4 linked regions of the Homo sapiens genome follow. The protein of the gene in region 4 interacts with the protein of the main gene of each other region in a biochemical or structural test. Each region holds a gene or a part of one and is shown on either strand. Other genes may lie near its edges. The genes, in order: UGT1A7, ADAP1, GAD2 and PRKCE.

Evidence for each region.
Region 1: of the proteins of PRKCE (region 4) and UGT1A7, one has a biochemical effect on the other in vitro, tested with the Homo sapiens proteins (one study listed by IntAct).
Region 2: of the proteins of PRKCE (region 4) and ADAP1, one has a biochemical effect on the other in vitro, tested with the Homo sapiens proteins (one study listed by BioGRID).
Region 3: of the proteins of PRKCE (region 4) and GAD2, one has a biochemical effect on the other in vitro, tested with the Homo sapiens proteins (one study listed by BioGRID).

The regions. Positions count from the first base shown.
Region 1 is NC_000002.12:233,677,467-233,685,153, reverse strand, and holds the start of UGT1A7 (UDP-glucuronosyltransferase 1A7 precursor), read right to left. Parts: upstream 3,254-7,687; 5' UTR 3,217-3,253; coding exon 2,362-3,216; intron 1-2,361.
Region 2 is NC_000007.14:951,420-959,650, reverse strand, and holds the start of ADAP1 (arf-GAP with dual PH domain-containing protein 1), read left to right. Parts: upstream 1-4,970; 5' UTR 4,971-5,173; coding exon 5,174-5,255; intron 5,256-8,231. UniProt on the Homo sapiens protein: GTPase-activating protein for the ADP ribosylation factor family. Binds phosphatidylinositol 3,4,5-trisphosphate (PtdInsP3) and inositol 1,3,4,5-tetrakisphosphate (InsP4). Regulates the incorporation of CD63 and CD9 into multivesicular bodies.
Region 3 is NC_000010.11:26,289,748-26,297,096, reverse strand, and holds part of GAD2 (glutamate decarboxylase 2), read right to left. Parts: intron 4,633-7,349; coding exon 4,525-4,632; intron 4,196-4,524; coding exon 4,106-4,195; intron 1-4,105. UniProt on the Homo sapiens protein: Catalyzes the production of GABA.
Region 4 is NC_000002.12:45,654,328-45,661,676, forward strand, and holds part of PRKCE (protein kinase C epsilon type), read left to right. Parts: intron 1-7,349.

The sequences.
Region 1 (7,687 bases), about 190 Mb from region 4:
AAAGTATTTAATTACATCCCTGGATGTAATTCACCTGGATAGACTCAATAAGATTTTGTTATAGGAAACCTTTCAGAAAAAAAATCTCCTGTGCAGAGCTTAAGACATTGCACACAAACACACCTGCACATACAGACACATACGTGCACAAACACCACATACACACACACTGCATCATCAAGCAATGCTTTCTTTTCATCAGACAGATGAAATGCAGACTATGAATCCTGTTGTCTAACAAGGTACAAAAAACTGTATACTTTTCCAAGACACACCCTGCCCATATGAAACAAGAAAGGAACACTATACAGTGTCCATAAATTTTTCTATGACAATTTACTTTTGTGGTTGAGCCATATCCAGGGCTCTTTGCCAAAGGGCACTCTTTATGATCTGAATTCTTCTTTGATAATTATATTTATTTTCTATTTATAAATATATACATTAATACATAACCTTCCACATCTATAAATCCTATCATATGTATATTCCTTAAAGGCATATAAATGCATATATTTTATACACCACTGAAGATATACAAATAACCAAAATATGTAAAACTATATATGGCTCAATGTTTCATATTTTATAGATCTCTCTATCATATACCATTATAGGTGGTATAGAATCATATATAATTTCTACATCTCTAAATCCCTTTGGGTGACCCTTTGAGCCACAACAAACTCAGCATGGGTTCAGAAAGTGGCAGGCCACACACTTGGCTAGAGGGTGAGGCTGCAGGCAATACCTGAGTGATGGCTGGTGCTGTAATTGATGGAGGGTAAACAGGGGAGAGACACTTTGACAAGTCTATCCTCTTAGCGTCCTACAACTTGCATCTCCTCGCCTGGTCTTGCCAAGAGCTGAAAGTCATGTTTCATTTGAAAGGCCTACAACTGTAGTCTCCCTGATTTTTAGAAAGCGCTTGGTTGCATTTTCCCATGAGTTGGTTGAACAGTCACTCTTTCACCAAACATCTGCCAATATGAGAGAGAATGTGACTGTGTTACAAAGTCTACTGAACTTTGTAAGAAGCCAGAACAATAGATAAAAATGTATACTCCATCCCTAACAAAATAATATACTTAGATCAGACACCAGGTGTTTCACCTGGATTTAGCAACTATGCATTTGCCAAGAATCTTACTCTTGTATTTGTCACGACTTTTTCAATTGCAAGTGACCAAATCCTAATTTAAGCTGGCTAGACCAACAATATTAATAATATTTTGGAACTATATGCTCCGCCAAAATAAGAGGTATAAATACCAGGGGAGGGAATAATTTGCAGATGATATTGCATACTTAATACACCTTACATACTAATACGAGAGTTTAGTAATATGACTACATACAAGATAAATGTGTAAAACTCAAAGCAGTACATTAATTATGCATAGTGAATTCAAAAGAGAAATGGGAAAATTGCCTTGCACATAATGGTTTCAAAAATAATGAAATGCAGAGGAATAAAGGTTAATAAGAAAGATGAAATACTTTTATAAAGTGCAAAATTTTATTTATGGAAATAAAACAGAATCCGAATAAATAATGAGGGATTCATATTCTTGAGTAGGAAGATGTAATAGCAAAAGAAGGCCAATCTCACTCATTTAGTGAAAACCAAGCAACCATACTCATAGGATGATACCCTACTGAGATAAAAGCAAAAATATGAAAATATATATAATGTAAAGAAAGTATACAAGAATTCTTATTATTGCTCATAAACCCCAAAAGTGGAAAACACTTAAATCTCTATCAATCTTAATTGGTTGGAAAACTACATTGCATCCAAAGTAAAGACTACCATGCAATTATTAAAAGAACATGTCAAATCTGTATGCATTGACCTGTAAAGATATCTTTAACTTATTGACAAGAGAAAAATCTAACATAAAAAAACATAGCCAGCATGATAGTAGATTTTATATTGATAAAATAGAAGTGACAATTTACCCTAAATATATGCATATACATAGTATAATTTCAAAAAAATTGAAAACAATTCACACAAAACTGCTAAGAATATTTTCCTCTGGGGGTAGTGTAGAATTAGCAAAAAAAGGGAAGTTTCATTTCTTACTGTGGTTTTTTTGTATTTTTCCAAAAATAGCATTTAGATTGCAGCCTAGATATGATCTACAATTATATCAATTGTATACACTTACATATCAACAAGAGCTGCTTTATACAATTTGCTACCCAACAATTAAGTGAATTGGTACAAAAGAATTCCTTAAACCAGAAAGAAATTCCAAATGGGACAAATGTAAATGATAAATTATGATTCTGTAAGAAATCTTTTAATTTCCAAAGCCAGATTATTCTTAATGTGCTAAAGGGGAGATAACTTACCATAGGCACTGGCTTTCCCTGATGACAGTTGATACCACCAATGAAGATCATATTGGGCATCACGGGTTTGGGATACTCCAAAACAAAGTCAGTTCGCAACAACCAAATTGATGTGTGGCTGTAGAGATCATATGCCGTGACAGGGGTTTGGAGAATTTCAGAGGCTATTTCTAAGACATTTTTGAAAAAATAGGGGCAAAATAAATGTTCCTCCAAGTGCATGATGTGGTTCCATACTCTCTCCTTGAAAGTCATGGCGTCTGAGAACCCTAAGAGAAGTCTGGGGACATAGGAAAGAGGAGCAGGGCACTGTGCACCTTCTTCAAGATAGTGGCAAAATATTCCCCTGGCGAAGACCACAGAGGGGAGGGAGAAATATTTGGCAACAATTAAGCCACAGGCATCAAAAGGATCGAGAAACACTGCATCAAAACAACTCTCCTTTAAGTATTCTACTAATTTTCGGTCATTAAACAAACTCCTGCAATTTGAAAAAAATAAGTCAAAAATACCATTGGATGAACTTGTTAATAGAGAAAATGCACTTCGCAATGGTGCCGTCCAGCGAGCATCGGCAAAAACCATGAACTCCCGGTCCTGATCCTCCAGAGTGTATGAGGTTGAGTAAGTCTTCACTGTGCAATTCAGTGATCTTCCCAGTTGCCAACTCACCTCTGGCATGACTACGACCACCTCATGCCCCCTGAGGATGAGTTTCTCCACCACCGACTGCATGGTGAACCAGTGGCTCCCATCCATGGGCACTACCAGCAGCTTCCCTGCCTTGGCAAAGCCACAGGTCAGCAGTAGACACACATATAGGGGAAGGAGGCCAGTCCACCCTGCACGAGCCATCAGAGAACTTCAGCCCAGAGCCAGCAGCTGGGATTCTAAGCTCCTATAATATAGTAAGTGGAAGAAGTACAGATAGAACCTGCCCTCAAAAGAAGGCGTGTACTTATTCATTCATTTAAAAAAAAATTCACATTCACTGCCAATGATTTACTCATAATAATACATGAGTAGCCTTTGCTGAGATACCTGCTTATATGTTTTCAAGAAAAGAGTAACTCATCATCTTTGCCTTGGGGACAGATCATGCCCTGTGCTGCAATATGAGTTTAGAAACAAAATTATTAAGCAATGCTTTTGGCCTTGACGACATTGAAAGATAAAAAGGAAAGTAAATTTGAACGAAGCTAATAATTTTGGAATTTGTCACAAAGAAAAATTTGCAATTTTTTTTTTTTTTTTTTTTTTTTGAGATGGAGTCTCACTGTGTCATCCAGGCTGGAGTGCAGTGGTAAGATCTAGGCTCACTGCAACCTCCACTTCCTGGGTTCAAACGATTCTCCTGCCTCAGCCTCAGTAGCTGGGATTACAGGCGCACGCTGCCATGCCCAGCTAACTTTTTGTATTTTAGTGGAGACGGGGTTTCACCATGTTGCCCAGGCTGGTCTCGAACTCCTGAGCTCAGGCAATCTGCCCATCTCGGCCTCCCAAAATGCTGGGATTACAGGCGTGAGCCACTACACCTGGCCAAAGTTTATAGACAATTTTTATTTTGTCCTCTGCCCAGAAAGAAATTGGCATCTCATGTTCGACGGAAAGAGAGCAAGGGTCTTAGCGTTGACCTCCTAACTGGGAGGAAATTGCGGCTCACCTGTGTCTCTGCAATACACAGCTCACTTGCGCATTGCAGAGACACAGGTGAGCCACAATTGTGACACAGGTGAGCCACAAGTGCTGCTTGTCTTTTTTCATTTCCAAATCTTCTGAGGCCTCTGAAATGCTGTAATGAGATTGACAACCCTGCCTCCATGGACCCTTCCAGAAATTTGATGGAATGTGACTGTCACCTATTTTAAATGGCTTTCCTCAGATACATTGTCTGCAGTGGTGAGTCGCCGTCCCTATGCTTGCCCAAGCACTCTAATGAGCTGTCTCTCTCTGCCCACTCTGCTTCTGCATTCTGAACAGAGCTGCAGGCCTTTGCTATGGGCCCACCCCAATCACTTTGGTGCTCATCTTCAGGAATCTATGTATTGTTTCCTCCATTCTACCGAGCACCCCTTGAGGATGAGATTACATCTTCTACCTGTTTTCATCCTCCTTCCACAGCACCCATGCTTTGCCTTGCACAGAGGAAGTCCATGGGAATTCTCATTGCATTGGGCTGAATTCCATCATGCAGATTTTAATGGGTGAGCTCAGCAGTGTGTGTTAGGCAACACACTGAGGAGCATTTCGTGAGGGATTCAACAGCCAACCTCAGGGCATAATTCTTGTAGAAGCACAAGATGGTTCCTTCCAGGACACCCTAACTGGTACTAGACATTTGCTTAGTCACTTTCCTCTAGTACATACTACACTACTATAATAATTTTGTTGCTACCTCCTGTTGCTATTGCAGGGAGCTAAAGTGTGGCCTAAATGCATGTGATATGACGTTTATACCCTCTGCGCGTTTCTTCTCTCTAGTAAATTGCATGTCAGAGTAAAAAATGATCTCTTATGGTTCTACTGTATTTTTCATCATGTTTAGTGTAATTTTTTAAACCTTGAATACCACCATGGGACTATAAAGTGCAACTAATGATGCTGCAAGTACTCCCAAGAAGCAAAGAAAAATCATGACATTACCAAAAAAACTTGAATTACTTGATAGGTACCGTAGATTGAGCTCTGCCGCTATGATTGCCTGCCATTTCAAAATCAATGAAGATAGATAAGGACCATTGCAAAAGAAAGAAAGAGAAAAAGAAAAAAGAGAGAGAGAGAAAGAAAGAAAAGAGAAGAAAAGATTCATGAAGACATTGCTGCAGCTATGCCAGCAGGAGCCAAACCTCGCATCTTTTTGTGAAATACATTTTTGTCTCATATTGAAAATGCAACTTTAATGTGGGTGTAGGATTGCTATAAGAAAGGCTTATTTATAGATGCCAATGTGATTTGAGAAAAATTAAAGTCATTTTATGACAACTTAAAGCAAAAGAGAGGTGAAGAATCTAAAACTGGAGAATTTAATGGCAACAAAGGATGGTTTGCTAGTTTTACAAAGAGGTTTGGCTTTAAAATTGTCCAGATAACAGGAGAACCAGCCTCTGCCAAGCAAAAGGAGGCAGATGAGTTCCCAGATGCCATGAAGAAAAGCATTGAGGACAAAGGATATCTGCCTGAACAGGGTTTTAATACAGATGACAGTGCCCTATTCTGGAAAAAACAAAAACAAACAAACAAAAAAAAAGATGACACAAAAGACATTTATTGGCAAGGAAGAAAACCAAGCACCAGAATGTAAGGCAGGAAGGGATAGGCTAACTCTACTGTTTTGTGTAAATGCAGTCAAGTTTACAGTCAGGACTGCCCTCATCAGTAGAACTGCCAAACCTCAAGCCTTGAAAGGAAAAGATCAACACTCACTGACAGTTTTATTGTTGTACAAAAAGAAGGACTCAACAATAAGAACGCGTTTTCTGGATTGGTTCCATCAAGGCTTTGTCCGTGAAGGCAGAAAATGCATTGCCAGCAAGGGACTGTCTTTTAAAGTTCTTTCGATATTGGACCATTCCCTAGCCACCCAGAACCCACAAGTTCAACACTGAAGGTGTCAAAATGGTCTACGTGCTTCCAAACCCAACATCTCTAATTCAGTCTCTCAATCAGGTGTCTTAAGGAAATTTAGAACTCATTACACACAGTTTTCTATGGAAAAGGTTGTCAATACTATGGAAGAGAATCTGGATAGAGAATGTCATGAAAGTCCAGAAGGATTACACCACTGAAGATGCCACTGTTATTATAGAAAGAGCTTTGAAAGCCACCAAGCCCCAAACAGTACATTTCTTCTGGAGAAAACTGTGACCAGATGTTGCACATGACTTCACAGGATTTATGACAGAGCCAATCAAGGAAGTCATGAAGGGATTATGGATACAGCAACAAAATGTTGGGGATAAGGTATTTCAAAATATGACTCTTGGAGAAATTCAAGAGCCAATAGATGCCACACTCAGGGAATCAATAGATGACCTGATAGAGATGAGTGCTTTCCAATCAGTACTTGATGAGAAAGAAGATGTAGAAGAAGCAGTGCCAGAAAAAAAATTGGCCTTACACAATACAAGCCTCATAGAAATGCTTCCAATTATTTAAGACTGCTATTGACTTCTATTAAGACATGAACCCTTATGGGCACTGAAACTAAAGCAAATGGGGAAGAAGGATTAGTACTGTATAAAAGCATTTTTAAATACATCAAAGAGAAAAAAACAGACAGTAATTATGATGTATTTCCATAAGGTTACACCAAGTGCACCTGCCTCTCCTGCCTCCACTTCCACCTCCTCTACCTCTTCTGCCTCTGCCACCCTGAGACAGCAAAATCAACATCTACTCCTCCTCCTCCACAGCCCACTCAATGGAAGATGATGAGGATGGAGACCTTTATGATGAATGACTTCCTCTTATACATACTCAACTTTTATTTTAGATTCAGGAGTACATGTGCAGGTTACCTGAGTATATTGTGTGATGCTGATGTTTGGGGCATGATTGCTCCCATCACCCAAGTACTGAGCATAGTACCCAATAGTTTTTCAACTCTTGCAGCCTTTCCTCTCCCTTTTAGGAGTCCATAGTGTCTATTGTTGCCATCTTTATGCCCAAAAGTACCCACTATTTAGCTCCCATTTCTAAGTGAAAACAATGGTATTTGGTGTTCTGTGCCTGTATATATTCCCTTAGGGTAATGACCTCCAGCTGCATCCATGTTGTTACAAAGGACATGATTTCATTCTTTTTTTATGGCTGCATATTCCATGGAGTATGTGTTCCACATTTTCTTCATCTAAGCCACTGTTGACGGGCACCTAGGTTGATTTCATGTCTTTTCTATTCTGAATAGAGCTGCAATGAACATACCAGTGCATGTGTTTCTTGGTAAAACGATTTTTTTTACATATATCTAGTAATGGGATTGCTGGGTCGAATGACAGTTCTGTTTTAAGTTCTTTGCAAAATCTCCAAACTACTTCCCACAGGGGATGAACTAATTTGCATTCCCACCAAGAGGGTACAAGTGTTCCCTTTTCTCAGCAGCCTCACCAGCATCTATTATTTCTTGACTTTTTAATAACAGCCATTCTAACTGGTGTGAGATGATATCTTATTGTGGTTTTCATCTTCATTTTTCTGGTAACTAGTGATGTTGAGCATTTTTTCATATGTTACGTTTTTTAATAACATTTTCTTTTCTCTAGCTAGCTGCATTGTCATAATACAGGATATAATACTAATAACATACAAACTATGTGTTAATTGACTG
Region 2 (8,231 bases), on a different chromosome or scaffold from region 4:
AAAAGGAAAGATGCTGCTGAGAACACTCGTGTCCAGGTGCGTGTGGACGTGTTTTCTGCCGTCCTCGGGCGCATACCGGGGAGTGGGTTTCCAGGGTCCCACGGTAGCTCCATGCCAGCCCGTTTTCCAGGGCGGCTGCACCGTCTTACACCCACCAGCGCTGTGGGAGGGGCCAGCTTCCCCCATCCTCACCGGCACTGTCTGTCTGTAAATCCTAGCCTCCCTCCACCGGCCCCCCGCCAGGTCTTCACTGCATCCTGGTGTGATTGGCATTTCCCTGACGACTAATGGTGCTGAATATTTCCGGTGCCTGTCGGCGGCTGTGTGTCTTCCTTGGGGACGCATGTGTTCAGATTCTTTGCCCTTTTTTTAATTGGTTCACTTGCCTTTTTATTACTGAGTTGTATGGGTTCTTTATAAGTAACTGTTTCTTGAGGCTGCACCAATTTGGGTGTGAACTTTGTAAACACTACTGCCCGATGGTCGCTGCGGAAAGGGGCCAGGGCTGGTGGGGGGAGAGCACCTCCCGGGGTCCCGCGTCGGGTCTGGGCCTCCTCCCCATGCCAAGTGCGTGATTCCGGCCCCCGAGGACCCTGCTGGTCCCAGGCCTCAAGAGATGGCACCTGGGGAGACCTGGGCCGTGACTGGAGTGGTCAGGCCAACGCCAGCTGCCCAGCGGGGGAGGAAAGGATGGGGGATGGCAGGACCCCTGCCCGGGCGCAGTGCCCAGCTCCATACCTGCCACCAGCCCGTCGGTTATGGGGATGGCTCTCCACGACCCCCTTCTCCACTCCAGACCCCATCTCTGTTTGGAAAACCAAGCAAAAGATATGTTCAAATGCCCCAAAACCCAGTAAGCCAACCTGTGCACCCACCTCCATGGCATGACATCTTGGGGAGGCCCCTGAGGACTCCCTGCTTCCAAAGGGGTTTCCGGGTCTAGCCCCACTCCCAGAAAATTGTGCTGAGACCACCTCTGGTCCTGGGTGGTTCCCCCTCCCCTGCATTTCGGGGCGCAGTGGCTATTTCTGGGGAATCCCCGTGTCTCCTTTAAGCCCCTCCTGAGCAGAGCTCTTTAGGATCCGTATGCTGCTGAACTCCTACTCCAGGTGCCCGAGGGGTGGCAGGGCCCTCACAGCAGTCAGAAGGCCCAGGAGGGTCTGCGCAGGGCCAAAGGCACGTCGCAGAGGACAGGGTGGAGGCCACAGCCAGTGGGCTTCCCTGGAGGGGGCCGGCCACATGGGGGCCCAACATCACGACCCCCATCCCCACAGCTGAGGCAGGTAGAGCCAGGAGCTGCCCACCCCTGCGCTGAGCCTGGATGTTGAAGACCCCTGCTTGGCCTGCAGGGCGGCCTACTGAGCTCACGGCCATCGTGCCAGACGCTGTCCAAGCGCAGATAATTTGACTGAATTAGCCCCGGCCCCTGTGCGGGGTGGAGAGGGAAGTGAACCTCCACAACCTCCCCTCCCCTGAGGCAGCTCCTGGTTGAGCAAGCTCGGCTGACTGTTGGGCAAGATGGTCGCAGAGCAGGGCCCAGCCCGGCCTCAGTCCATTTGCCCCTTCCCTGGGGAGAGCCCCCTTCTGCCTGTGCTGAGAGGCTCACCCCGCAGCTGCAGGCCTGGGAGGAGCCAGCTTCCAATCAAAGTCGCCTGCTGGCCTACCACGCGCAGGCCCCGTGCTCAGGCGACGCTGGAGGAGCTCGCCCTGCTCTCGGGAGCCCCCTGCCCAGGGTCTGCTGTGTGGCCGAGTGGTCACAGGAGGCGGCTGCCTCTGGCTCTGGACTAGGGAGATGCTTGAGGAATGAGTGTCAGGGTCCCTGGTGCAGCCGTGCGGGTCAGTGACAAGGGGCAGGAGGCTCAGCAGAGCTTGTAGGCCACTGGGCATGAGCAGGAGCAGGCACGCCGCCTGTCCAGGCCCCTCGCCAGCCGCTGCTGGCCGGAACAGCCTTTGACCAGCACTGGTCTGGGTCTGGCCCACCCTGAGCTATGCTGTTACCTTCCGGATTCTTCCTGAGTCCTGGGCTCCCCTACTGCCCCGCCCAGCCCTGACCACAGCCAGTCAGGGCAGCAGGATTTCAGGACGGCTGTGCTCTCGGGTCCAGGCAGGTACTTGCGGATCTCGGCCGAGCAGCCTCCTCTTTGGAAGAATCCCCCTCAGCCCCGACATCTCTTAGATCTGAGGGGTTCACCCACCTCTGTCTCATCCTCACGCCCTCCTGCCCCCCGAGCAATGCCACAGTTCCCTTAGCGGGATGGAAGGACAGAGAAGGCAAGACACTCGCCTGCTGGAGCTGCCCCACGGAGGAGGCCCCGGAACAGCAGGCAGTAGATGGCCTTGGCTTGTGCCAGAAGCTCTGGCCTGTTGGGCACCGGCTCCCCTGAGGCCTCCCTGCTGCCTTTTCTATGCCTTGTATGATGGCCTCCCCGTCTTTGGGGACCTTGGGTAACGGCTATGTTAGGGTGTGTTGCTTTGTTATATTGTTTTATGTATATTCCAGTCCTGAGGTGTGTGGCCTCCAGCAAGGGATCGAACCTCCCCGTGCCTCAGTCTTCCCAGCTGAAAATGGGGCTTTAATAAGAAAATACATGTCGGCCGGTCGCGGTGGCTCACGCCCATAATACCAGCACTTTGGGAGGCCTAGGCAGGCGGATCACGAGGTCAGGAGATCGAGAGCATCCTGGCTAACACGGTGAAACCCCGTCTCTACTAAAAATACAAAAAAATTAGCCGGGCGTGGTGGCATGCACCTGTGTCCCAGCTGCTGGGGAGGCTGAGGCAGGAGAATGGTGTGAACCCGGGAGGCGGAGCTTGCAGTGAGCCGAGATCGCACCACTGCACTCCAGCCTGGGTGACAGAGCAAGACTCTGTCTCAAAAAAAAAAAAAAGAAAAAAGAAAATACACGTCAAGCCAGGCGTGGTGGCTCAGGCCTGTAATCCCAGCACTTTCAGAGGCTAAGGCAGGCAGATCACGTGAAGTCAGGTGTTCGAGACCAGCCTGGGCAACATGGTGAAACCCTGTCTCTACCAAAAAATAAAAATATACCTGGGCATGGTGGCACCCATTTGTGGTCCCAGCTACTCAGGAGGCTGAGGCAGGAGAATCACCTGACCCCAGGAAGCAGAGGTTGCAGTGAGCTAAGATCGTGCCACTGCACTCCAGCCTGGGCGATAGACCAAAACCCTGTCTCAAAAAAAAAAAAAAAAAAAGGAAAAAAAGAAAAGAAAAGAAAAGAAAATAGAAAATACAAGTCAGGCTATTTCTCCTAATACCTAGTGCTGAGCTGCTGCTATTAATGTTCGTCTGTCTTTATTAGGCGACATTCTCCAAGCTCATGCTGTGTGGTGGATTCCGAGCCTGGCACAGGGACCCAGAGATGAAAATGCCACCTGTCCCCACCCCAAAGCCTCCCGTCTGAGGGAGGAGAAAGACCCATGTGAACGGTTACAGGGAAAGAGCACGTGATGCCACAGGGCACAGATCCCAGAGACACAGACCAAAACGGGCTGCCGCGTTCTGCTTCAGGTAGACAGAGCTTAAGCAGCTCCATGATTCCACGTCAGCTGGAGCAGGGGGACAGGTGCCTTTGGTGGCACTCTGGTCAGTGCAGCCTCAGTGGAGGCCATTCCACATCCCATACCATTGCCCCAGCGATGCCACTTTGAGAGCAAATCCACACAAAACTCTTGCAAAGATGAGGTTGTGTAGACCATGATTCTGATGCATTCAAAACGCTCTAAATGCCCCTATGCCAGTGACTGGGTGAACAAGTCATGGTTCAGTTGAACTTTTTTTGAGTTTGTTTGTTTGGTTTTTTTTTTTTTTTTTTTTTTTTGAAACGGAGTTTCACTCTTGTTGCCCAGGCTGGAGTGCAATGGCGCAATCTCGGCTCGCTGCAACCTCTGCCTGCCAGGTTCATGCGATTCTCCTGCCTCAGCCTCCCAAGTAGCTGGGATTGCAGGCATGCGCCACCACGCCTGGCTAATTTCTTTGTATTTAGTAGAGACGGGGTTTCACCATGTTGCCCAGGCTGGTCTCAAACTCCTGAGCTCAAGTGATCCACCCGCCAGGGTCTCCCAAAGTGCTGGGATTACAGCCGTTAGCCAAAACCCTGTCTCGATAAATGAATAAATAAATGAAAGGCTACAGGCCTCAGACGTTCGTTCTGGAAGGTGCTGAGGAATTTGTTAACAGTGGTTGCCTGGAAGGCAGTGGGGAGAGGCTTTCCTTTTTCAGTCTGGTATGTTCCAGTTTGTTTTCAGCCGGGTGTACTGCATTAACCCTGCAAGAAGAAAATGGAAAGAATTTGAAAAGATGCTGGGGTGTGCAGAGGAAGGGCACGCGAGTCTGGGAAGAGGTGACATCAAAACCAGGTTTTTTGTTACCTGTCAGCCCCCATGTGAAGTCCCGGCGGGGCCCCTCAGCCTGCCTGAGTGGGAGGGGTGCCCAGAGGGTCCCATCTGTGGGTGGTGGGCGGCTGGGTGGGTCTCAGGGGGAGGCTCCGTCTGGGCCCTGTGTGGCCTCAGTGCCCTGGGACGCTGGCGTTTGTCACCTGCTGGCCGTCCCTCCCAGGCAGGGATGGTGTGAGCGCCCTGGTCCTGGTCCGTAGCACAGGACACGCACACCTGCCTTCCACGAGCACCCCCATGCCCATGGTCTTGGGGGGCTCGGCAGGTGCCCTCTGCGCCCCCCACAGTAGGTGTGCAGGCTCCGTCCCACCGCGCGCGGCGGCACGAGGGTCCCACCCAGGCCGGCCAGGTTTTGGGGCGGCCTCGCGCCCAGGCAGGTGGGACGCTGCGCGCGGATGGGGGGCGGGCGGCGGGCGATTTCCCAGCGGGTCCCCGGGGCGCGCGGGCTGGGGGCGCCGGAGCGGCCGAGGGAGGAGGCCACACGCTCGCCTGCACCGCTGGGGGCCGCCCGCGGGCCTTGCCGGCCAGAGCGCAGCGTGCGCCCCGGGCCCCGCGCCGGCACTCGCTCAGCGACCGCGGCGGAGACACGAGCGGCGGCGGCGGAGCCCAGAGGGCGGCGGGAATGCGGAACCGGCGCGCGGGCTGAGGCCGCCCGGGATGGCGCAGGGGCGGCGGCGGCGGGCGGCCTGCGCGGGGCCCTAGCGAGCCGGGCTGACGCTCCCGGCCCCGGCCCCGGCATCGGCATCGCGGGCGCATCGCGGCCATGGCCAAGGAGCGGCGCAGGGCGGTCCTGGAGCTGCTGCAGCGGCCGGGGAACGCGCGCTGCGCGGACTGCGGCGCCCCGGGTAGGTGTGGGCCGGGTGGGCGCGGGGCCGGGTGGGTCCGGGGTGGGCGCGGGGTGCCGGGCGGGTCCTGGGTGGGCCCCGGGGACCGGGCGGGGGAGCGCGGACGCCGCGGGGGTGGCGGCGCTGAACACCGGGCCGGATCGGCGCTCGGATGGGGCCCGGGCCCGGCTGCACCTGCGGGGACCCGGACGTCTTCCCGGGCCGGGCGCAGCGGGGGGGCCCCCCCCAGGACCCCCGGAAACCCCCCTGCCGCCGCCTCCCCTCCCCCGCCGGGCTGCGTGTCTGACGGTCACCGCGGACCGCCCGCCGCGTTGCGAAAGCTCGGGCTCCGCACAGAAAGAGGAAATCGGGGCTGGCTGCAGGGAGGGAACGGGCCGCCAGCCGGAGGTCTCTGCTGGGCTGTGGGGTCCGCCGGCTCCGGGGCCACCTCGCGGTGACGTCATGCCTCACGCCCTTCCCGCACCGGGGGTCCCTGGGTGTGAGCGGCGCCCCTGCCCCCGGCTCCCTGCACCTGGCTGCTCCGGGGCGGGCGCCAGGACAGGTGAGGCCTGGGAGAGGTGGGGCCGGACGCAGGTCCTGGTCCACCCGCCGCCCGCCCGTTCGTTCTCCCGGCCGGGCATCCCTGACTCGGTTCCCAGGTCTGTGGGATTTCAAGGCACTGGAGTCCAAAGGCGCGGAGTCCCTCCCTTCCAGGCCACTGGTCCTGTCATTGGCTGTGAACGGGGCCCAGTGCCCAGACCAGCCCTGCCCTGCTCGGGAGCTGTCAGCCCCAGGCCGGCTGCGCTGTGGAGAGAGGGCCCCGCCGGAGCAGTCCCGCCACCCCAGGCACACCAGGAATCTGGGGGCCAATAGTCTAAGCCCCTCGGAACAAACCTAAACTCACCGGCGGTGACTGAGGCCCCCAGGGAGGGAGCGGGGGAAGACCTTGCATTTGCCTCCAAGGCCCTGGTTCAATATGCAGCCTCTGGACACCCCGGAAAAAGGGGTGTCCCTGATTCCCTCTGGGATGGAGGGGTCTCTGCCAGCCCCAGGTCGTGGTGGCTGCTGTCCAGCTGCAGCTTGGCTGGAAAGGCCACATCAGGAGCTGGGGTGTCCCAGAGGGGAGATAGCGACAGGCTTTTCTGGAAAGACAGGCAGGACCCACGGCCTTTCCATGGTCTCCTGAGACAGGACGGCCACAGGGCCCGTGCAATGGTGCGGTGGGGGTGGCCCCCTGGGCTGGCTCACCCCAGACTCTCTCCCCACAGACCTTTATTTCCTCCTGTTCAGGAACGCTCCCCAGGAAAGCCAGTGGGAAAGGGCCTGGCCTGGGGTTGCTGTGGCCCACGGGGAGGGGAGCTGGGCTTGCCTCTGAACCTCTGCTCCCTGGCCACACAGCCTGGGAGCAGCTTCTCTGGACTCAGGGCCCCTCTCCAGCCACCCTCTGGGCCTCCCAGCCTGGCAGGAGGAAGAGGGGACTTCCTTGGCCTGCTGGGTCCTTCAGTGGTCCTCCCCTCCCAGTGGGTGCAGGTGTGCCCGGCCCACCTGCTAAGCTTCCAGCCTGGCCCACCCCAGAGCTGTTCTCTGCCGTCCCTATGCCCCACGCTGCCGGGTAGAGGGCCGCACCTCTGCCTTTTCAGAATCTGTCCATGACCTCAGTGACTTGTCTCCTCTGTCGGGTAGCGCCATGGAGGGGGGATGCTGTGAGGGGTCACTCTCATTTCACAGCCAGGGAGACTGATGCCTTGCAAAGGGAGCTGTCTTAGGGGACATGAGCCACACCCGGCCGCTCTGCTTGTCCCCGCTCCCCAGGGCTGTGGCCACAGGGTGGAACAGGCGGTGTCAGGAGGCAGGGGGCTGCCTAGCCCCCCATGACCCCATGGCACATCCTCGAGGGCTCTATGCTTCTTTGCTGATGCCAGCTGCTCTGGGGCCTCCTGTACCTGCTGTGGCCCAGCTGGGTGACAAGGAGCCACTCCAGTGTTGATGGGGGCTGGGGTGGCCGGCACGTTCTGCTGTCCTCAGAACACTGTCCTGTGCACTGGCTCACGGCTGGTGCAGACCTGGACAGCAGGACATCAGACAGTCCCAGACCACCTCTGAACGCCAGGCCTGGGGCTGCTGGGGTGGACTTGAGCAGGCCCCACCCACTGGCCGTGTGAGGGAAGCAGTCTTGGGGTCTCTGCGGCCCCCACAGAAGCTCCTTCCAAACTCTCCCCATGACCTGTCCCAATAGTGGGTTCCCCTGACCTTGAACAGGGGGCCTCGCCCGGCGGCCACCCAGAGAGCCTCTCATCACAGGCCTGGCAGGTGGGCGAGTTGGGGCGTGCCTGGACCCACTGTCCTGCAAGACCTGGGTGGGGGTCTCCATCCTGGGAGGGGGTTTGGGGGAGGGAGGGGTGCCTCCGTACATCCTTGGAGCTGCCTGCCAAATCGCAACAGAGGACAGGGACCGGGCGCGGTGGCTCACGCCTGTCATCCCAGTGCTTTGGGAGGCCGAGGCCGGAGGATCGCTTGAGGCCAGGAGTTGGAAGCTGCAGTGAGTCGTGATCACACTCCAGCCTAGGCCAGAGTGAGACCCTGTCTCAAAAAAAAGAAAAACACACATATTGTCCTCTTTGAGTCTCAGGCCATCTGATGCCCCGGAAGGACTGGGGTGTCTGAGCTCTTTTGTTCTTTTTTATTTTAAGGTCTCGCTCTGTCACCCAGGCTGGAGTGCAGTGGCACAATCTCAACTCACTGCAGCCTCTGCCTCCAGGGCTCAAGCAATCCTCCCACCTCAGCCTCCTGAGTAGCTGGGACTACAGGTCCATGCCACCATGCCCAGCTAATTTTTTTTTTTAAGACAGTCTCTCGATGTCACCCAGGCTACAGTGCAGTGGCACGATCTTTGCTCACTGCAACCTCCAACTCCCAGTTTCAGGAATTTGGCCGGCATGGGTGAGGGTGGGAAGAAGGCTGCTGAGTGTGGGCGGGGGCTGGGCAGACTCCCTTCAC
Region 3 (7,349 bases), on a different chromosome or scaffold from region 4:
CAAAAAATATAAAAATTAGCTGGGTGTGGTGGTGTGTGCCTGTAATCCCAGCTACTCGGCAGGCTGAGGTGGGAGAATCACTTGAACCTGAGAGGTGGAGGTTGCAGTGAGCCGAGATGGCACCACTGTACTCCAGCCTGGGCAACAGAGTGAGACCCTGTCTTAAAAAAAAAAAATTCTAATATGCGAAAATTTCACCAATTAAATCCTCTATTGCACTTAATAACACAGACTTTCAAAGAGTCTGTATTAAATATAAGTCCAGGCTACTTCCTTACAAATTTAGTATTAAATCCACTGCTAACCTTTGAAAAGTCCTCCAATCAGTGTAGGACTATAAAAGCTGACAGAACCAGATAATGATCAAGAATAAAAAAAATTAAAATAAGAAGATAAAGAACCAGAAACACAAGAGGTGATCAATAGACCAGCCCTTTTGATTCTTGTTTGGTAAACATTGGCACAGCCCACTTGCTGCCCCTCCCTGTGTCCAAGGCATGTGTGTGGCGTCACATCCTCATAGTGCCCCAAGCATTCATCATCTGCACTGCCTCAGGGACAAAGCGCCATCTGCAAGATCATAGTCCTGACAGAGCAGCAGGAAGCACACTGACTGGATTCTCGTGTTTACCACCCTCATGAAGATATGACTGTATTTGCTTTATTAATAACTTCTGTTATCCAGATATTTGTCCCCAAATAGTGCACTCTGGAAAAAGGCTTATGAGCCACTATTAGGTTTCCTAAATGTTGTTTCCCTTCCTTATTCTGGAATATGCCTAAGGTATTTGCTATAGACTGAATTTTTCTGTCCTCCCAAAATTTATATGTTGAAATCTTAACCCCTCAATGTGATGATATTAGGAGATAGGGCCTTTGGTAGGTGATTAGTTCAGGAAGGCACAGTCTTAGGGACCCCAGAGAGCTCCCTTGACCTCTTTCTGCCATGTGAGGATACAGGGAGAAAAAGGCCATTGACGAACCAGGAAGTAGGGGTTCCAGCAGACACGGAATCTACTGGCACCTTGATCTTGGACTTCCCCGCCTCTAGAACAGTGAGAAATAAATTTCTGTGCTTATAAGCTACCCAGTCTATATTAGTCTGTTTTTGCAGCTCAACCACGCTAAGATACAATTTTAGCTCAACAAACGATTTTTGAGTTCCTATTGTGCACTACAGCTATGAATCAGGCAAGATGGTACAGAGTAATTTCTCTGCCTTGTCTTGTCCAGAATTTAACTTTGTTCTTTTGGTTCACATAAACTGCACAGGAAACTCTGCATTTCCCCAAATTTTGAGTCTATATCGGCCTGGACCAACAGAACTCTGTGCAGTGATGGAGATGTTCTATATCTGCACTGTCCCATAAAACAGCCATTGGGCACAAGTTGAGTGACTGAAATGTGGCTAGTGTGATTGAAGAACCAAATTTTTGGTTGAATTTAATTTTAATTGATTTAAATTTAAATATGAATAGCCACATGTGGCTATTACTACCATACTGGACAGCATAGATTATTTCACCTCAGTTCTTTTCCCTCTGGGACTGTGTGTGTGTGTGTGTGTGTGTGTGTGTGTGTGTGTGTGCATGCGTATGAATATTTTACTGGTTCCTGGACATGATACTTTAAGGGCGTCACACTTAATAAAGAACTTTCCAGAAAGTCTGAAAAAATCATTGGCATACGTGAACAAAAGTTAAACTTGGTATTCATGTGGTTCTATTTTCATTTCCAAATCTGAATTGCTGAATTCTCTTGATTACAGTAATAAAATTGGAGAAAAATCAGGAGAATTCATTCTGCAATCCCCGGAGATTTTCATATTTGAATTGTCAACAGTATAAAAACAGTTTACTAATATTCTAATTGCCATCTCCAGGAAATAATCTCCATCCCCATTCTTCATTACAGCTCATATGAGGTGCTGAAACCTAGGAGGCATTTGAAGAGTGATATTTAAAAGGGGGAGCCTCCAAGTTGACTTTTGTTCAGAAAATGATGAAAAAAAAAAGTTTTTATTCTGTATTCCCATCTTGCTCCATCCCTCAGCCCAGTGATAATGGACTGATTCAACAAATGAAATCAGCCAAACTAGTCCATGGATTCTCTTTCTGGCCAGTCAGTTCAATAAGGAAGTGAAAGCCAAAAAGAATGGAGGCATCTAATTTCTAACTGGTTAAATAAGTCATTGTTAAGAAATTTTACATTATGAAGGTATACCATAAAAATTCCAGGAAAAATAAGAATTTTTTCCTCTCAAATGACAGCAGACACCCGCACCCCCTATTCTCGTTGTTATTGCCTGCACCGATCATCTTATCCAATGCGACCTCTACTCATTCCCTCCCACCCTGTGGGCTTGATTTCCTGGAATGAACCAACTTCACGAAATCATCAAACACAACCACAGCCCCTTCCATCTCAGACACATGCACCACGGATCCTGGTTCTAGAAGCTTTCTTCCATTTTTTCCTCTAGATCAGGGGTTCTCTAGCTGAGGTGCACATTGGAATCATCTAGATAACTTCCAGAATCATTCCCAGGCCCATCCAAGCACAATCTGATTACATTTTCAGGGTGAGACCTGGTCACTAGTGTCTTTTATGAAGTTTCTGGATGATTCTAATGTATGGCCAGGATTGCAAATCACTACTCTAATTAGGAGGCTTGGTTTAAAGACCTCAGCCATATGGAAGTTTCCTCCCGATGAGGAGTTTGATCTTGGGTTGCTTAAGGACAGATGTTAACACATAAAAGCTTTAGTGAAGGTTTTATATCTACACAAAATCCTCTTCTTCATTTTACGTAGAAGGAACTAAAGTGTTCCCAAAGGTCAGTGAGACAGCCCAAGCTCCTGAGCAGTGAGGGGACAGCCTGCGGGGCTCTTGGCAGTGACTGGAGGAGGTTCCCTCTTTTATGATAAATGAAAAGAACCCCCAAACCAACCAAATCAACTCTGAGATCCAAGTCTACATGACCATCCCTAGTTTCGAATGGGGGACAGGTCCTGCATATACCCCGCTTCGATGTGCACTGTAAACCCCATTTCACCCATGTATAAGTGCTGGGAGCAGGAGAGGATGAAAGATTAATGGTGTCTTACCACAGTACCATTTAAAGCTCAAGCCCTTAGGCTCGGATGCAGACTTTCTGCGAGATTTTGGGAGTTACATTTTCTCCCTGTGGGTCAGTTTCTCCATCAGCAAGATGGGTGGACAATCCTTCCCATGTCAGGTTGCTCTGAGGCTTTAAGTGACCTAACACCTGATATTGAGCTGGGACACAATGCACACTCAAAACAGTGGCTGTTATTATTGCTCTTTGCCCTCTTACCTTCTAGGGGTCACCACAGCTCTAAGGACACACCCAGGGTAGCCTTGACCTTGGCAGCTCAAGAGGGTCAGCAGCAGCGTTGTTTGCTAACCATTTCTGGTACCTAAAGTCTCTTTTGTGCTTGTAACTGAGCACCAGTTTCACTTGGAACATCAATGAACTTCAGCAACGTCCTTGTTGCTTTGTGAATGCCAGCAAAGGTTATCGCCTGACTACTTCTTTCAAGACATCATAAACTCACTCTCAGAAAACAAGCAAATAGAGTTGTTAAAAGTCTGCATAGGCCGGGCACAGTGGCTCATGCCTGTAATCTCAGCACTTTGGGAGGCCAAGGTGGGCAGATCACCTGAGGTCAGGAGTTCGAGACCAGCCTGGCCAACATATTGAAACCCCATCTCTACTAAAAATACAAAAATTGTCTGGGCGTGGTGGTGAGTGCCTGTATTCCCAGCTACTCGGGAGGCTGAGGCAGGAGAATCGCTTGAACCCGGGAGGTGGAGGATGCAGTGAGCTGAGATCACGCCACTGCACTGCAACCTGGAAGACACAGTGAGACTCCATCTCAAAAAAAAAAAAAAAAAAAAAAAGAAGAAAAATGTCTGCATATATCAGGCTCTATATGTCCTGGCTCTGTAGGAGTCCACAGACGGGAATGGGCCCATGTACCCAGGTAGGCTGTCTCCTAAGGCCACAGGCATATGTCATAAAGAAGATGTGCACATGAAAGGCTCAATACACACATGTATCAGAGGAGCTTGGAGCACTGACCTTCGAGAGGCGACTCATTCTCTCTTCATTGTCTTCCAGAGTACGCAAGCTTGGAGGAATGTACCAGAAGCAGACATTTGTGTGCTGAGGCTACAAAGAGGAAAGGAAGATTCACATTTGGCCCAGGCTGGCAATTTTGAAAATTCCAAGAACATTTCAAATCGATGTATTCAGCAGGTTCAGAACACAATTCCCACTTTTCAATCAGGAATTGCCATTGGAGGGCATGATTTTGACAACGTTATATGGACCACTTTGAGAGTTTCGTCTTTATTCCAGCTTGGAATAGCTACCCCGTCATCCACTGCTCCCCTCTGTAATCGTCCCACTTACCTGGACAGCACATCATTTACATCATATCAGTGATGAGGGTTGGAATTGACTAAACTTTCTGAGATTGTAGAAATCCAAATACATACCTTCCCATCAAACACCATCTCATATCCTTCTCGGTTTTTTATGATGTTGTATAAATACTCTGCCAACTCCAAACATTTATCAACATGCGCTTCAAACCCGGTAGTCCCCTAGGTAAGAGAAGGACACAGCTCATTAAGCAGGCTAAGAGTGCGGAGGAAGCGATTTCCCTGGAGACTGACCGTCATCCTGCCGTCTCTGTCTTAGCCCCGTCTGGCACTTTCTCAACACAAGGCTGTTTCCAAAGGCTTTTTCAGCGCTATTTTCTCTTCAATGCTCTCCCCGTCAGGTGCTTTTGTTCCCTTTCATTACTGCTTTCTACACGGAACTCCTTTTCTTCCAGAGCCTCCATTCCCCAGGCAATTAGTTTGACTACTCAAGAGGAAAATGTGCCTCTGCTATTCATAGGAATAATCATGGAAGTCATTAATAACAGGAGGGCTGAGCTACTCTCTTCCTGCAGATAAAAAGCATCACCAGAGACCCCCCAGAATGCCTGCTTAGTTCCCCTCCAACGTGCACATTTTCCATTCCCAGAGCCCATCTTTGTCTGCCAGTGTACCTGATACAGAAAAAATTGGGTAGGTGCTCACTGACTTCATTGAACAAATGGATGCAGGAATTTTAGGGAGCACCCAGATGCTTTGTTAGCCTGTCGAGCTCTGTACAGTTCTCCTTTGGGGGCAGATAAATGACTCACGTGTCTGTAATGGGTGAACATTATCACTGATTTCTTTTAGTTTCTGGCTCTGGAAGCTCTGAATCCAGACTTGGGAAAACCAACACAACAGTCTTGGACTGGAGCTGTTTAACTGACATCGGGACACACAAGAGAGTTACTTTTCAAAATGGCTTTCCTCTTATCTCCTTGGGTGTTTACTGGGTGCTGATGGAGAAAGCTTAAGAGTAAAAGCCAGTGCTCATCTCAGAAGCACTTTGAACCTGCCTACCAGTAACTTCTCCAGCAGAGAACCTAGAGAAAGCAATTGTAATGGAGATGAGATGGGCCCACTTGCCTGTTTCATACAAGATCACATCATCTCAGCTAAGGGGGCCCAACATAGCCCAGTGACTTGTGACATCTGAAGCAGGTTTAAGAACAAGCTGCCCTGGAGATATCAAATGGGTTCAGAAATTCACTTCTTTGGAGACTGCTCCCCCAGGTAATCGGCTCAAGGAGGCTGATGGGTTCCTGATGCCTCCCCAAGAAGAGCTTGGGCTGATGCCTGATGCTTGGCCAGCACCCATACCAGGAGCTCTCTGCATCTATGGGTGCTAAGGAGATTATAATTGGTTTGGAATGACCTGACAGTTTGGGTTCACTTGGGATGGACTGTAGGTAGAAGTGAGGGAAGCTAATTGCTCTTCTCCAACCTGGATCCTTTGGACCAGTCTGGAGTTGGGTTTAAACTTTTGCATATCTGATCTAGGATATGGCATGACCAGCTTGCCTCTGACCCTGTCCAGATGAATGGCTTTGGCCAACTCTCTGATCAGATGGGAATGATGATGCCTCTCTGATTTCCCATGAAGAAGAGTTTGCACTGCAACAGCAATGGGATTACTAAAGACCTCTGGTTCCCCTGGTCTGGGACCTTGCTATGGGGATGATCATGGGCCATGTGACTGCCCCTTTAGTTGGGGGCTAAAGATATACATGGGGAATGACACAGAAAACTCTAGTGTGCCCTGGGTGCCTCCCGTTCATATTGAATATTTATGGGATTAAGATCCACATTTTATTTTCAAGGTTTTGAAGGCTTTTAGGAGATTCTTCAAAATTCTTTCATTCATTAAATACTTCAGCAATCTCACCATCCAAGTGTTCAGCTGCTGCCTCTATGTGGTCTTGGGGTTTGACATCTTGAGAGCTGGTCATGATCATTCTCCACTTCTTGAAATGCTTTTATAAACATTCACAGGCCCCAGAGACAGTGCTTTTGAAATAACTACCGAATCCCTTGCTGTTATCTCAATTTTTGCTGCTATCACCCTAGTTCAGGCTCTGTTACTTTTCACCTGGAACATAGCTCCCAAGTCGCCCTTCAGTCAATTAGACTTTCCCTCACTTTCATAATATGCACTGAACTCCTGCTCAACCACTCCGTGGAATGGCCTTCTCACAGCACTGCTGGGTGAAATCCTACTTCTTCTACCTATCCTGTTCAAGTCCTATCTCAAAGGTCATCTCTTTGTGAATCATCTTGATTCTTAAACCAGGAATGAGCTCTCCGTCCTTTAAATTCCCCAGATGTGTCTGGATTTCTTTTGTGATCAGTCCTAATCTGTCTTTTATGATGGATTTCTGTGCATTTATCTTATCTTGTCTGGAAAATGAGAGCCTTCTTATCCCATTCAGTACTAGACACGATAATAGATGCTGAATATCTACTTGTTAAAATAAATTAATATTTTAGAGAGAAAGTAAACATTCATTTTCAGCAAAGGATGCCAGATGTCCATTTCCCTTTAATATTTTTTTCCTGGTATTTTTTTTCACAGCCATTTGCCAGTCCCTCTGTTATCCACATTTTTAATTAGAAAAGCTAATCATAAAAAAACCACAAGGAAAACTGACTATTTGTATGACTACATACAAACACAGAGATTTGCTATGAAACCTTGGTTGTTATAAATGAAGTTATTCCTGCAGGCCTGAAAAGGGAATGTAGGAGAATCGCTTGAACCTGGGAGATGGAGGCTGCAGTGAGCTGAGATCACGCCACTGCACTCCAGCCTGGGCAACAGAGCAAGACTCCATTTCAAAAAAAAAAAAAAAAAGGTGGGGGGGAGATGTAATTTTAAGTTTATTTACTTATTTTTGTTA
Region 4 (7,349 bases):
AGTGGGAACTTGTTTGGTTATCATCCTCTAAGGTTCTCAAATTCATGTTGGATTTGGCCCTAGGCCAGATCATCTAGTGCACAGGCAAGTTTTACAGATGAGGACATTGAGTTCCAGAGAAGCTAGTTGGGGACCGAGGGTCACATGACAAGCAAAGGTGGGTTGGAAGTAGGGCCCTCACCGCCTGTTGCCCATGGCTTGTCTGATGGGGAGCCGAGCCTGCCCATCTGGCCTCCCAGCCTATTCTCCCTGCAGATCCATGTGCTGTGTCCCTGACATTTTTATTGTACTTGATAACTTCATCTCTTTTGCCTTATAGCAACTGTGAATTAGGTATGGCAGGTATTGGACAAACTAAAAAACTTGAGATAGAGAAGCCCAAAGTCTGAAGGATGAGTCAAGCAGTGGAGCAGGTTCAGAATGCCCATCTGTTTTCACCAGAGGATGCTGTAGCCACTCTGGTTCCTCCAGGCTGAAGGTGGGGACTCATTGGCAGGGGTGACTGGCCCCTGGAAATGGAGACAAGTTGCAGCTGGGCTAAGTTCACCTTTCCCAGTCTTAACATTCAGGGTAAACCCATGGTTTCATAGCTTTGGGTAGAATTCCCTGGGCTCAGGTCTCTTCACTCCTTACCTGGCAGGAATGAAGAAACACACCCTTCTCAGGTGTGGCTGAGAGATCTGGCCTGAAGTAAGGGGATGTGGATAGCATAAAGCAGCCGTTTCTCTCATTTTTGCGGAACACCGAATTCTGCCGCACTTTGAATTCACTTGTATTCCTGGAGTTCCTGTTTTGTGCTCATGTCTAACCAGGGAAGCTTCTCACTGTGGGCCATCCAGAGGAAAATGAGGCCCTGGGTTACTCTCAAGGGGCTTCCATTTCACCAAGGAATTGACACCAAGTACCCACATATACATCAAGCTTGTCTAACCCATGGCCTGTTAGCCACATGTGGCCCGGGATGGCTTTGAATGCAGCCCAACACAAATTTGTACACTTTCCTAAAACGTTATAAGTTTTTTTGCATTTTTTTTTTTTTTAGCTTATCAGCTATCATTGGTGTTAGTGTATTTTATGTGTGGCCCAAGACAATTCTTCTTCCGATGTGGCCCAGGGAAGCCTAAAAGTTGGACACCCTGATGTAGACACTTAACTAGCAATTAGGTTCCACACAGGTGGTACCATTAGTGTGTTAAGAGTTTAAAAAGGGAGTGTGGGCTAGGCACTGTGGCTCATGCCTGCAATCCCAACTACTTGGGAGGCTGAGCTGGGAGGACCGTTTGAGTCCAGAAGTTCAAGATCAGCCTAGGCAACGTAGTAAGACTCCATAACTACAAGAAACTTAAAAATTAGCCAAATCTGGACCTGCGGTGTGGTGTGTGCCTGTAGTCCCAGCTACTCAGGAGGCCAAAGTGGGAGGATTACTTGAGTCCAGGAGTTCAAGGCTGCAGTGTGCTATGATCTGACCATCAGGCCACGGCATTCCAGCCTGGGTGACAGAGTGATACCCTGTCTCTTGAAAAAAAAAAAAAAAAAAAAAAAAAGGTAGGGAGAACTGGAAGAATCCAGGAGGGTTTTTGGAAGGAGGCATGAGCTGAGTGTGAAACAGTAGGTTATATTTAAAGAGGTATCTACAAGAAGGAGCAGTGTTCCTGGCATGGCCACCGCAGGAATAAAGGCAGACAATCCTGTAGTCAGGGTTGGAGAATGGATGAGCAGGACAGAAACTGAGTGTACCTGTCAGAAAGGAGTGGGCAGGACAAGGTTTCCCAAATTTAAGACTTTTTTCTGAGTACTGCCTGTGCTTTCATTTACTTAATATTTAAAAAATTGATTCTTTTATTTTCCACGTAGTCTTTTCTTAAGCCCCACTATTCATGAAATCACAGGTTTGGAGCATGTAGTTATAACTTTTCTTTGTTCACATTAAAATAAACAGGGCTCTACAATACAGAAACAAAGTTCATTCCAAGTGCCTCTGAACATCATTAGTGATGTGGGGCCCACACTTCGGAAACATTGGAGTAGGAAAAAGTTTAGAAAACTGAGGTGAATTCTAGAATGCGTAAAAGCCAAGCTGAGATAATTATTCTCCAGATAATGAGAGATGTTTCAGTTGTGATGACAAAGGAGGTTGCTTTAGAGAAAGCTCATTACAAAGAGAAGGAAAGATTTTGCTGATGCTTTGAAGTAAAATCTATTATAACACTATTGCTATAGCTGGGTTTTCCAAGAACCAGTTAATAACGCTACTCAGACTTTCATGTACATAAGAATCAGTAAGGGAGGGCATATAAAAGATAGATCTATATAGATTTATATAGATCCATATAGATAAAAATATAGATCCTCTGGCCCAACCTTGAGAGCTTTTGATGCTACAATTTGGAATAAGCTGGGAATCTACATTTTTAACCAGCTGTCCCAGAGATTCTGACCAGACCAGGCTTGCTTTGAGAAACATTGGGCTAGAATAGAAATTGCAGGCCAGAGAGGGCTCCAGATAATTAATGGATCAAGCATTTTTACATAGATATGTCCTGAAATGTGACTGTATAACTTTATAATTTTTAAAGAAAGATTTAGAATAATAATTGTGTGAACTAGAAGTATTGGGATTCATGTTAGAAGCAGAGGCTGAATGAATGCTGGATGGATTGGCATTGCATTTAGCACAGGGGTGGGAGGCAGGCGGAGCAAGGATTAGGGCTTGAAGGGCTGCATGCAGGTGACAGCTAGCTGGCTCGTTCACATTTTGGATTTTTCTCTATCATTGCTTCAGTAGTCTACACACTGAGCTCAGTTTCCTCTTTGTTCTACTGCCCTGCCTCTGAAGACATCTTTGGCGAATGTCACTCCCTTGCTGTATTCTGTAGAAGAGGCAGGCACTCAGAATCCAGAGGTACAGAAAGCCATCATTTGAGAGGTGATTCCCCGGAGCAGCGAAGTCTGGAGTCACACTGCTTGGACTTGAATCCCACTTCTACCATCTACCACTTTCATGACCTTTAGCGAGTGACTTAACCTTCCGTATTTCCATTCCTTCCCCTGTACAAAGTGGGTGATAATAAATATACCTCCCTATAATGAAATGGGTTTACTGTGGGGATTAAAATGAGTTAATACATGTACAATGCATACACCAATGCTTGGTCCCTAGTAACTGCTCAATGCATATCTACTATAATTATTATTATTATAGCCCCCAAAATGAGCATGGGGCTGGCCTAGAGAGAGTTTTTGACTGAATTGATTATTATATAGGCCACGAGAAAGCTAGGTTTTCATATTCTCCAAAGTAGCTCTCTTCAGTCTGGCCATCTCATTTGGCAAAGAATGGGACACTAGAAGTGTCATTTCTGGTTTGTATTTCCCAAGTAGCCCATCGGCAAAGCTTTTCAAAATGATGGCACCCCTGCTGACTCTGGGAGATAGGCCTATACCCTGTTTGGACTCTGGGAGATAGGCCTGTACATCATTCGGAGAGGTTAGGCTCTGAGGCCGTTCTCCCTTGGCCCACCAGAATCACTTGGGGGAGATTCATGCAACACAGATGCCAGGGCACAGCCTCTAGCAGTGCTGATTCTGATGCCCCGAATGGAGCCTGAGTTAAGCAGGACCCCTGCTGCATCTCCTACAATGGCAGCCTGACCGCACTTTGATATATGTTACTCTAGAGCACATCTCTATCTTCAGGACATTTGTAGGAAAAAATTTTTTAAAAGGATTTCTGAAACCTCCATTGTCATTTAAACACAGTGGGGTGGGAAGGGACTACTAAGGGGGTAAGGAGGTAGGGAAGGGCTGGCAATTGTCCATACCTCCTTCGTGTGCGCCTATACCCTGAATTATTTCCCCAGCAGCCAAGGGTCCCTGGATCTCCCTTTCCCCTACTCCCATAATACCATGTAATCCAATATTGCTCTCATTGGTCCATAGCTGGTTGTTTAACAACTACCCAAAGGATTCATTCTTGGCCCAGTGCTATCACAGACAACCTCTTGGCATTGGGTCCCTAGAGTTAAGGACCTGAGTTAGCCTTCAACTTCATGGACAGTCAAGCGTTGTTTGAACTGTTTCTTCTTCTTAGTGTCTTTGACCAGCAGCAGATTTAGTGAATATTTGAGACCCTGAATTCCCTGGCTCCTCAATGGACCGCTCTCCCTGGATTCAGTGAGTTCTAACTGGAAGGCATCTCCACCACTCACTAGTTGTGTGACTTTGAGCATGTGACTTAGGCTTTTTAAGCCCGTTTCTTCATCTGTAAAATGGAAATGTCGTAGGTCTTGACTTTCAGAGTTGCTATGAGAATTAAATAAGGAACTATAAAGCTTGTAGCAAGTGGTCTGGCTATAATACATTTCAGCAATTTTATTAATATTTGAAGAGTCATTTGTGTGTTCATAGTTTTAGAATCTTAAATCAGAACATATGGTCCAGTGAAATATATTTTTCTCCTTGATTTGTGAATGTATTTATATGAAAAGTCTTACATACTCTAAAAATAAATTTGACTTAGTTATACTTAACAAATTGCCCTTTGGAAGATAATAGAATTACTTGAAATGAGATTGTTCTGGAAAGTCTAGAAGCTGCGGTCATTGTAGACAAAGGTTAATTATTTATTGAAGAGGTATGGGTAATTGGAAATGAGGATATTTGGGAGCTGGTGTTTTGGTTTTACTGTGCCAATGTCATCTAGTTTCATGGATTTAAATACACTTTCAGTGCTGTTGACACTAAATTCCTAATTCCAGCTCATGCCTGACCCTGAACTCTAGACTTTATATATGGGATTGCCTTCAGGTCCTCAGCTTTCATTGTGTAAAGGGCATCTTAAACTCCATATGCCTAATATTGTATACCTATTTTCCCCTCTCCTCAATCTAAGCCCTTCTTCCTCAGCTTAAGAAATGGCAACTCCATCCTTCCAATTACCCAGCCAAAAACCTTGAGGGGCCATCCTTGACGCCTGTAATTCTCAGGTGCCCCATATCTTATCCATCAGCAACATCTGCTCTTTCTGCCTTCAAAATATATCTCAGATCACATCCTTTCCATACCTTTGCTGACCTCACTTGGGTCCAAGTCACTATTATCTCACACCTGGATTATTTCAACAGCCTCTGAATTGCTTCCACCTGTCCTGGCTTCTCAGCTCCTGTCTCTGCTCACAGATCTCTCAGGTGAGATTATCCCTTACCATAATTTACAAGACCAACAAAGTCAGGCCTTCTGCTGTGACCTCTCTGACCCTATCACTTGCCACTCTTCTCCCTGTTCATTCCTCTCTAGCTATCCTGACCCACTTGACACCCCTTAAATGCACTTACCATGCTCCTGCCTCAGTCTTTACCCTTGCCATCCCATTTTTTTAGAATGCCCTTTTCCCAGATATCCACATGGCTCAAGTCTTCGCTCAGATGTTATGTTCTCAGTAAGGCCTTTTCTGGCAATCCTATCTAAAAGTTCACCCTCTTATTTTATGCTTCATATGCGCCTTTCCTGCCTTTTTTTTTTTTTACTCTTTACTCTTACCTCTATCTGATACGCTATTTAGTTTTCTTATTTATCTTTGTTGTTTATTTCTAATACCAGAACACCAGACGCTCTATAAATGTAGAGCTTTTTGTTCACCGCTTTATCTCAGCACCCAAAACAGTGCCTGGCACTTTGTTGAATGAATGAATAAATTGTTGAATGAATGAATAAATTTCTTGGCACATTGTTGAATGAATGAATGAATGAATGAACACAAAACAAGTGTGTATTTCTATAGTACCTACTATGGTCTAGCACTGTTGGTAGATATGGGGTTTGGTAACACAAAAGTTGTGTATGTGTAGTTCCTGCCTCTGAGGAGCATGGCATCTCGATAGAAACCAGTTGAATGAATTTCTTAAACAATCCTTCTGTACAGTTGAAAGAAGTGAGGAGGAGGAGGAAGGAGAAAAGGATATTTTATTTTATAAAAATCTATGAGATCCCTGAAGATGTTCTTATGAGAGAATGCTATATTATTTCCACATAGCAATTTGCATCAAGCTGAAGAATCTCCGTCAAGTCTGAATTTCCCAAAAGTAGGAATTTTCTACCCTCTGAGTGCCCAGGGCCCATTCCAGGTGCCATGGTGAGGGAAGAAGAAAAAGGCCCACTTGTCCTCCATTTGCAGAGTTTAAATGAAGTTCAAATTCTCATCAGGGCTTTAGATACAAAACCCTTTGTAGTTGGCAGCAACAAGAAACGAAATTTCAAATTCCGGCGCCTGAACTCATAGAGCTATTGAAGCATGTTCAGACAAAGCTTCCAGGGGTTTCACTTAGGCTAAAATAACTCCAGAGCAGGCCTGCAATATTTTACATAAATAAAAGCTACACTTGGCAAAACATTATATTTCTCTCCAAGTTCCTCTGGGTATATATGGGCTTGTTAGTAATTACAATCTATTATAATGCTAATCAGCATGGTTGCACCTGTTTGAGATTTAGTTTTCTGTCAGAAACCATGTGAAGTGGCCAAAAGTCTGTACTGTGCTGGGAGAACCAGGAGGACAGGAACATACAATTCATCGTAACTCACTGACATCTAAACAAAATTGAAACTCCAGAGGAAATATAACTGAAATCTGTAATACTGTGCTGGGGAAGAGGAGGAAAAACAGAAGCCTATCATGAAACCCAGATGCTGAAATGAGGATCTCCTCTCTCCTCATCCCTGACCTCTACCCCACCTTGAAGTCTCAAAGAGGTAGTTTTATGTTAGTGAAAAGTCACCTGTATTTGCCAGCAAGGAGTAGACTCACTGAGCTCCTGACCCCAAGAGATAGATAAGACTAAAAATGTAATCAAGCTTAAGAAGAGTTTTTTAAAATTTGAGATGGAGTCTTGCTCTGTTGCCCAGGCTGGAGTGCAGTGGCATGATATCGGATCACTGCAACCTCTGCCTCCCGGGTTCAAGCGATTCTCCTGTCTCAGCCTCCCAAGTAGCTGGGATTACAAGCATGAGCCACCACACCCGACTAATTTCTGTATTTTTAGTAGAAACAGGGTTTCACCATGTTGGCCAGGGTGGTCTTAAACTCCTGACCTTAAGTGATCCACCCGCCTCAGCCTCCCAAAATTCTGGGATTATATAAGAGAAGTGAGCCACTGCGCCTGGCTTCAAGAAGAGTTTTTTTTGTTTTGTTTTGTTTTTTGTTTTTTGTTTTTTTTTTTTTTTTTAGAAGGAGTCTCGCTCTGTCGCCCAGGCTGGAGTGCAATGGTGCCATCTTTACTCACTGCAAGCTCCGCCTCCCGGGTTCACACCATTCTTCTGCCTCAGCCTCCCGAGTAGCTGGGACTACAGGTGCC